Linked DNA regions of Homo sapiens: region 1 is reported to be linked to region 2. Evidence: microRNA targets listed by miRTarBase, many of them from high-throughput screens and not tested one by one. Region 2 holds a microRNA gene; the other region holds the end of a gene's coding sequence. Distances are between the middles of the regions.
The links. Region 2 holds the annotated microRNA hsa-miR-6720-3p (CGCGCCUGCAGGAACUGGUAGA, at 2,591-2,612, shown strand). A microRNA usually pairs through its seed, bases 2 to 8, with sites in the 3' UTR of a target mRNA and lowers its output. Matches are read on the target gene's strand: a 7mer-m8 pairs with bases 2 to 8, a 7mer-A1 pairs with bases 2 to 7 and ends in A, and an 8mer does both.

Region 1: miRTarBase lists ULBP3 as a target of hsa-miR-6720-3p. Seed matches in the 3' UTR shown: 8mer at 1,599-1,606.

What each region holds. Positions count from the first base shown.
Region 1 is chr6:150,060,827-150,065,203 of GRCh38, forward strand. ULBP3 (UL16 binding protein 3) reads right to left here. Exons shown (of 5, transcript NM_024518.3): 4 at 3,759-3,887; 5 at 227-2,525. The coding sequence ends at 3,781. Among named protein-coding and RNA genes, the nearest start is that of ULBP3, 6.1 kb to the right of the region's middle.
Region 2 is chr6:1,388,559-1,392,935 of GRCh38, reverse strand. MIR6720 (microRNA 6720) reads left to right here and starts at 2,525; the gene lies at 2,525-2,622. FOXF2 (forkhead box F2) reads right to left here and starts at 3,360. Exons shown (of 2, transcript NM_001452.2): 1 at 1,818-3,360. The coding sequence starts at 2,988. It overlaps FOXF2-DT (FOXF2 divergent transcript), which reads left to right and starts at 3,475. Exons shown (of 3, transcript NR_187218.1): 1 at 3,475-3,917. RefSeq lists an enhancer at 1,313-2,178.

The DNA.
Region 1 (4,377 bases), 150 Mb from region 2:
GAATGCAGCTCTTGTGCCTTCAGTGCCAAGAATGCCACAGTCCCAGACCAGAGGAAGAGCTGATGTGGACGGTGGAAAAGGAGGGGGTGGGTGTAGAAGGAGAAGGCTGACAGCAAGGATTTCCTGAGGATAAACAAAAAAAATGTCACTTGAAACTGGCAAAAAAAAAAAAAAAAAAAAAAAAAAGTAAGGGTATAAAGAACAAGATGGAAATGGAAATCTTGTATAATTTCATTATGCAGTGTTTAATTTTAGGGTTTGGCACTTTCACGTATAACTTTTATACAATTATCATCATATACAACTTACGATTATTTTAAATGACTAGAGTTTAGTTTTTGATCTGGGTTAGCGTTCATAGTGCAAAGTTCTCTCGTTCCACTCAGTTAACCCCATTTTTTGGAGGGCTCTATGTCATTTTATTTTACTTACGAATCTTTAATTTTAACCTTTATTATAGATTAAAGGGTACACATACAGGTTTGTTACATGGGTAGATTTTGGAAGGCTGAGGCTTGGTGTCCCAATGATCTCATCACTCAAACAGTAAGCATGGTACCCAACAGGTGGTTTTTCAGCCCAGGTGCCCCTCCTGTCTCACCTGTCTAGTAATCTCCAGTGCCTCTGGTTCATGTGAATTCAATGTGTAGCTGCCACTTTCCAATGGGAACATGCAGTATGTAGTTTTCTGTTCTTGCATTAGGTTGCTTAGGATAATAGCCTCTAGTTCCATCCATGTTGCTGAAAAGGACATGATTTTGCTGTGTTTGGTGGCTGCATAGATTTCCATGGTGTTTATGTACCACATTTTTTTCATTCAATTCAGTGTTGCTGGGCACTTAGGTTGATTCTGTGTCCTTGCTAGTAAGAATAGCACTGTAATGAACATATTGGTGCAGGTGTCTTTTGGATAAAATGAATTCTTTTCCTGTGGATATATCCCGAGTAGTGGGATTGCAGGCTTGAATGGTAGTTCTATTTTAAGTTCTTGGAGAAATCTCCAAACTGCTTTCCATAGCGGCTGAACAAGTTTGCTTTCCCACCAACAGTGTCTGTTTCTTTTCCTCTGCAGCCTCACCACCATCTCCAACTTTGTGACTGGTAAGAGATGGTAACTCATTGCAGTTTTGATTTGCACTTATCTGATGATTAGTGATATTGAGCATTTTTTCACGTTTGTTGGCCACTTGTATGTCTTCTTTTGAAAAGTGTCTGTTCATGTCTTTGCACATTTTTTAATTGGGTTTTTTTTTCTTGCTTGTCTAATTGTTTAAGTACTTTGTAGATTCTGGATATTGGACCTTTGTCAGATGCAGAGTTTGCAAATAGTTTCCCCATTCTACACGCTGTCTGTTTACCGTGTTGCTAGTTTCTTTTTCTGTGCAGAAGCTCTTTAGTTTAATGAGGTCCCATTTGTCAATTTTTGTTTTTGTTACAATTGTTTTTAGTGTCTTCTTCATGAAATCTTTGCCAGGCCCTATGTCCACATTGGTATTTCTTAGCTTATATTCCAGGATTTTCACAGTTTTATTACCTGCGCAACATAGGAAGACCCAATCTCTACCTAAATATAAAACAATTTGCCAGGCATGGTGGCATGCGCCTGTAGTCCCAGCTACTCTAGAGGCTGAGTCTAGAGGATCACTTGAGCCCAGGAGTTGGAGATTACAGTGAGTGATGACTATGCCACTTCACTCCAATATGGTTGACAGAATGAGAAAATGTAAAAAAACTATAATGATAAAAAGGATTAATACAATTCTTGGTCAGTGCATGGAAAGGATCCCTGAGGTCTGAAGTCCTGCATGCTATTTTACTAGCAATACCGTTTCGAAGAATAAGGTCATGCTTCAGAGAAATGTCTGCTTTTCCACAATCAAAGAAGTAGAAAGAAAATGCCTTTTGCTGGGATTTCTTGTTCAGTTAAAACTTGTGCAGGAATTCCATCCATTAGCACCGAGAGAAAGTGGCAGAAGGTGTTAAGAAAAATGGCTGGCCGGGCGCGGTGGCTCACGCCTGTAATCCCAGCACTCTGGGAGGCCGAGGCAGGTGGATCATGAGGTCAGGAGATCGAGACCATCCTGGCTAACAAGGTGAAACCCTGTCTCTACTAAAAATACAAAAAATTAGCCGGGCGCGGTGGCGGGTGCCTGTAGTCCCAGCTACTCGGGAGGCTGAGGCAGGAGAATGGCGTGAACCCGGGAAGCGGAGCTTGCAGTGAGCCGAGATTGCGCCACTGCAGTCCGCAGTCCGGCCTGGGCGACAGAGCGAGACTCCGTCTCAAAAAAAAAAAAAAACAAAAAAAAAAAAAGAAAAATGGCTGCTGGGATCATGAGCGAAGGTAATGAGTGGCCTGAGATGTTGAGCCGACAATGTCCTCATCATCTGCTGGGGGCCTCTGGGCTTGCTAAGGCTTGAACTCCTGCTTTCCAGAAAGGCACAGTGGTGAGTAGACAGGCGGCCTCCCTGAAGGGAGAGCAGGAACCAGACCAGGCTAACAGAGGCTTCTTGATATCACCTTCCACCTTGAGGAAAGATGAAGCATTGGTTTAAGTGGCTGAGAAAAACCTGGGTCTGTTCTCCTGGGTGATCCTTCCCAGGCCCTCCCCATTTCAGAGCTTCTCCCCCAGATAAGGAACATGTTTTTCCCTCCAACCCTACCCCTGGCTGTGCAGCCTTTCCCAACCTCCACCCTCCTTCACCACACCACAGAGGCAGCCCAGGTCCTGTTACAGCCCATAGGGGCTCAGACCTGAGGCTGGTAATGAGGGGTCTGCACCCTCACTCAGGGCCTGCTCCTCCCTTTCATAGAAGGGTCTAGAGGACCTGGGGGAGCCCTGTCCAAAGAGAGGTCTCTGGATCCATGTTCCCTGGCCTTGGGTGGGTTTGTAGGCAAACCTTCTTTCTCCTTCGCTCTCAGCCTCTCCTCACCCTGGGAGCTGCACCCATAGCTCTGAATGGGACTGTCCCTGCCCTGCCCCATTCATTCCTGGCCAAGCTCAGTGGTGACCACGGACCTCTAGCAGCAGCTCAGCTGCCCTAGCTGAGTCCACTCTGCTCCAGGCAGGGCCATCAGCTGGCTCAGGATCTGGAGTGTGCACGAGGCAGAATGGCAGTGGCATCGTCCCAGGGCCTAGCCAGGAATCCCATGGGTCCAAGGGGCTCGGCCATTTCCTAAACCTCATCCTGGACACGCTCTACTCTTCACCTTCCACCTTAACTGCTGGGACTCAAGGTGCTCTCTCTGGGAATGCAGCCTTAGGAACTGGGTGGGCCAAGGCCCTCACAGCCCCCTCGTCCTGGGATTCCCCCAGGTTTCTCTCTTCTTAGCCTCCTCCAGGGACACCCCTTCCCTTGACATCCTTGGTGAAGTGGCCATGCTACTCCTCTCCTACTGTGCAGACTGCCCATGCCTGAGTTCCTGCTGCCTGCAGGCCACACACCACTACCCTTCCCAGATAGAAACCTGCTGTGAAATAGGCCTGAACTGTCTAAACCCTCTTGAACTCAACCGGCCCTGAGCCTTGATATGGGTCCCTCCCTTTCCCTCTGGCCCTGATGGTGAGAATCCATCAGAACTCAAGGTTGAGCTGCCCAGGTCATTGCAAACAGGCGACACCAGGTCTCATTCACCTGTCTCATGTCAGAACGAGAAGGTCCCGGCCATGGGGAGAGGTGGGACTCTGGAAATTCTCCTTTCCCTTCCTCCCACCTCACCCATCTGTCTCTCGTTCCCCTCACAGTTTTGCCCACAGTACCTGTCACTCTAAATGACTCTTCTCAGATGCCAGGGAGGATGAAGCAGAGGATGATGAGGAAGCTCCAGGGACTGAGGGTGGTGGCTATGGCTTTGGGTTGAGCTAAGCCTGGGGCCATGGTGGGTGGTGCTGAAAGGGAAACACAAAAGTGACAACTCTTGTCCACGCTCCAAATCTGAGGAGATGGCTCCTTAGCTCCTGCTACCCCAGGTCATCCGGGAAGGCAGAGGATTTGTCTCCCCTGCTGTGGGGCAGCCGCTGTGACAGGTCCTGGGGGTAGGAAGGGAGAAGGGGTGCTCCCTGTCCTCAGGGAGCTCACACAGCTGCTGAGGGAAGCAAGGTGACAGCACAGCCCACCCTCCTGCTGTGGCGGAAGAGGAGGTGATGCCCTAGGGCCGGGACAGGAGAGTCTCGGGGCTGCCATTCGAGGTGGTTTTGATGGATTTCCAGAAACAAACCAAGGGAGAGGAAAGGAAAAGTGATCCTAGGAGGAGGGAAATCTAAGGAGAAAGGTCTAGAAACACAATGACGCCCACAGTTTTGAGGCTGGTGAGAAATCCACAGTGAGTGGAGCAAAAGCAAGTGCAGTGAGGAAGAGGAGTCAGGAGGGAGAGCATAG
Region 2 (4,377 bases):
GGAAGGAAGGGCAGAGGGTCCCTGTCGGGCGTCAGGCCCGAGCTATTGTCTCCCCCGGGCGTTCCCAGACTCGGTCGGGGGTTCTGCGAGGCTCCCAGGGAAGGCCGGCCGCGGGAGGCCGCTGGGTAGGGGCACAGAGGCCGGCTTGCTTTGCTGGGCAGTTTTCACCCCCTCCAAGACAGTAATGTATCCAGATTCCGAAGTTTTGGGAGCTTGTGCCTGCGCCCAGTGTTATGAGGTGGGGCGAGAGCAGCCTTGAGGAAGGGTCAGGAGTCTCTTTCCTGTGTGCTTTTTTTTCTTCCTAGAGTACGGTTTCTCCAAGGCTGCTAAGCCTCAGAGTCCGGGTTCAAGTTGAGTGGATCTGCCGGGAGAGGAGAAGAAGGGGAGCAGGGAGGGCAGCTGGCAGGCTGGGAGAGGAGCAGGCAGGCGGGGAAGGGAAGGGGCCAGTGCACCGAGGGGTGTGTGTGTGTGTGTGTGTGTGTGTGTGTGTGTGTGTGTGTGATTGACAGCCGGTCCAAGGGAATACAAAAATAAGAGGGGAAGGCCGCCTGTATTGGTTACTTGTTGAAATTCCCATAAAATTGAACAAGACTCTGTTCTCAGTGGGTTAAGTCAGGCTAAAATCCTCTCCGGTGTGGTCCTGCCGAGACTGTCTTTGTTTGGTTAACCTCTGAGACCCACATTTAAAAGGCCTATTTGGGAAATTTCACCGTCCAGGGAACCAACATCTTTTGCCCATTTCTGGGCTTTCCTTCTCCCCGGGTGCTCCCGCTGCACACCGGCTCAGGAACACATAAAGCATGCATCACCCTCCAAGCCACTGTCTCATTGCTGTGGGAGGCCAGTGTGAGAGAGTAGCTTGGGGCCTTGCCTTTGACTGGCAGGCCCATGGGATTTTAATCTGCAGCCCTAGGTGCTCCGAGCGAGGGGTTAATGTAAGGGTTTATCTCTGTTCTTCACATTAACCTGGTCAAATATTCAAATTCCCTCTTCCATCCCTACCGTCCCCTCCCACCTTTCACCGCCTTCAGCAAGTCAATAATTTTTCATAATCTGCAACCAGAACAATGTAAACCAGCCACACTACAAGTGGCATCCACAGGGCAGGCGCATTTCTCAGGGGAGTCCTAGCAGGGTCCTTCAGGTCCTGCCACCCAGGACCTGTATCATCAATGTGGGTCCATTGTTGGGCGGGGGGGGAGGCAGGGAAGGGGAGGAGTCTCCAACAGTTTGGTGACCCCCTCCACTGGCAAATGTCCCTTTAGTGAAAGATCCTGGGATCCAGCTCTGTCCCTCCCACCCCCTCCTCTTAACACTTGCCCAGCTGCAAACATCTCGCTGCAGACACCCCAACATACAGAACATATCTGATTCTGACATTTACTTCGGGACAGAAGTACAGCAAAATGAACGCAAGGAAAAAAAGGGACAAAAGGAACTAGACACAGCTTCCTGACCAAGTTCCCCAAAGGCCAGATGCCTTCTCTCCAAGCTAAGTGAGACTCTGAACGGGAGACCTGCAGTCTCCTGCACAGGGATCCCCAAAGAGCCCAGGAAGGCAGGGGACTTTACACCACGCTCACAGCAGCCAGACAATTCTGAAGCTTCGGCTGCTGGCCAGGGATACTGGGAGGACAGTAAGACCCTGATCCCTGCTCCCACGAATAAGATGCCGGCTTTCCCCAGCATCTGCTTTTCCCAGTGCCCTCAGACCTCCTAGCTTCGGGGTCCCTGTTTGTGGGAGTGGCAGTGGCCGCCAGCCCTGGAGGCCTAGAAGCGGTGCGCCCAGCTGGCTGGGCTGGAGCGTGCTGCGTTACCTGAGAGGTCCTCGCGAGCGTTCTGGTGCAAGTAGCTCTGCTCCAGCGAGTAGGAGGACATGCTGGAGTGCAGGCCTGCCGAGGCGGCGGGGTTGCTGCTGGGCGTCAGGGCAGGCGGCTGCTTGAGGTAAGGCGAGGCGCCAGGCGAGCTCCAGTGCGCCGCAGGGCTCGTGTAGGGCGAGTGGCATTCGATGGCGCTCGCCATGGCCGGGGACGAGGGTACCGGGCTGCTGCTGCTGTCCGGCCCGTAGTCGCCGCCGCCGCCGCCCCCGGCCGCACCGACGCCCCCGGGTCCCGCGGGCACCGGGCAGCTGGCCATGTAGGTGGAACCCGGGTTGGGCGACATGTGCGGGACGTGGTGGTGGTGGTGGTGGTGAGGGTGCGCGTGGCTGGGGGCGCCCGCGCCGGCGTCGTAGCCCGCGGGCATCATGTCGAGGCCGCCGTAGCCGCCCTGGCTGTGGCAGCCGAGCGGCGCCGACGGGGGCGCCTGGAAGTCGAAGCCCTGGGGCAGCAGCGACGCCCCGAAGCCCAAGCCGCTCACCACGCGGTGGTACATGGGCTTGAGCGCCTGGCACTTCCGCCTGAAGCCGCGCGGCCGGCGGCGGAACGAGCCCTCCTCGAACATGAACTCGCTGGCCGGGTCGATGGTCCAGTAGTGGCCCTTGCCGGGCCGCCCGAGGCCCTTAGGCAGCTTGATGAAGCACTCGTTGAGCGAGAGATTGTGGCGCACCGAGTTCTTCCAGCCCTGGTAGGCGCCGCGGAAGAAGGGGAAGCGCGCCTGCAGGAACTGGTAGATCTCGCTGAGCGTCAGGCGCTTGCTGGGCGAGCTCTGGATGGCCATGACGATGAGCGCGATGTACGAGTAGGGCGGCTTCTCGGGCCGCCGCAGCCCCGAGCTCGCCTTCTTGGCGCCCCCGCTCCCGGCGCCCGCGCCGCCGCCGCCCGCGCTCTTGCAGGCAGCCGAGGGGGCGCTGGCCGAATTGGAGGAGGACGAGGACGAGGCGCAGGAGGCGGAGGACGACGACGAGGAGGAGGAGGTGGTCTCCGGGGCGGCGGCGGCGGCGGCGGCGGCGGCGGGCGGCGGGCTCATCAGGGCGGCCTGGAGCGCGCCGGGGACCGGGCTGCACGCGCGGCGGAGCGGGGCCGGCGGCGGCCCGCCCTCGGTGGTCATCTGGGACCCGGGAGCGAGGCCGGGCCGCGAGGGCGGGCCCCGGGCGGGAAGCGGAGGCGCCGGAGCGGGGTCGGCCCAGAAGCCCTGCGAGCGCCCTAGCCCGCCGCCCGGGCTGCAGCCGTGGCCACTCCGGGCCAGCGCTTCGGCGTCGCCTCCCTCAGCTCCTCTGGGGCTTCTGGCGGCGGCGGCGGCGGCGGGCGGGAGGCAACGCCCGGCGCATCCCTCCCCGAGCCGCGGGCCCTGCCTTGCGCAACGGCCTCCCAGGCCGCGGGGCCGAGCGGCCGGCGCCGGGCGACTGCGCCCGCGAGTGGGACCGCGGCCTGGACCCCGGGGACGAGCCCGACGTCTCCCTTCAGGAGCGCTCCTCGCTCTGTCTCTCGGACTTCCTCCCTCCCTCGCCCTCCCCGGCCGCCCTCCTCGCTCCCTCCCTCCCTCCCTCCCCCCCCACCCCGCCCTGCCCCCTCCTCGCTCCGCGCCGCCGCGCTCACTCCTCCCCCTCCCGACCTGGCGGCCGCCTCCCTCTCTTATCTCGCTCCCCGCTCTCCAGGGTCTCCTCGCTCTTCATTCCTCTCGCGGCCTCCTCCCCTTTCCCTCACTCACCCTCTTTCCAATTGAGGGATCACAGACTCACTCCGGTTCTGCCAGGGGGACGACCCCCACCCCTCGCAAAACTCGACCACCTCTGACTTCATGAAATATTCTTTCTGTTTGCCCCCCGCAGCAAGCCCCGCGTCCCATCCCAGGACCCAGCCCCGCCCCTCCGCGCCCCCTTCCTCCTCCTGGCCCGCCGGGCCGAGTGGTGCTGCTGCGGGTGCGGCTGCTCGGAGCCTCCCTGGCCGCCCTCCCCAGGGCCGATACTGACTCCATCTGTCAACTTCGTTTAGACTTTGCCGCCCTCAGCCACACGCCGGGGTGCCAGACGCCCAAAGGTAACGTGCCAATCCTCTCTCTTTCTGGCAGGGCCTGCAGGCTCCCCGACAATTGTTAGGGCGACTGGGGGCCGCCGCAGGGTTGCGGGCCGCTGGCGATCGTGGACGTTTTCGGAACTTTGAGCAGAGGGATTTACACTGAGAAACCTAGGCCAAGTTTCAAAGACTCTGGAAACCTGGATCTCATGGGACTTAGGGTTGCATTTGCTTCCACTTCTTCCCCCCACCCCCGCACCCCAGTTAGTGTTCTGTAAGAAAAAAGTGCAAAAGAAAAAGGAAGGAAGGAAGAAAAGAAAGAAAGAGAAAGAAAAAGAAAGACCCTGAGATAAGCGAGATGGCTATATTTATAGTCAGTCCTGAAGGGGTGTGCAGCTGTCACTAGGTTTACATCCTCCGTCTTAACATTGCCCACCCAAAACTGTGCCAGGTCTCAGCTAACTCCTGTCCGAGAACACTTCTC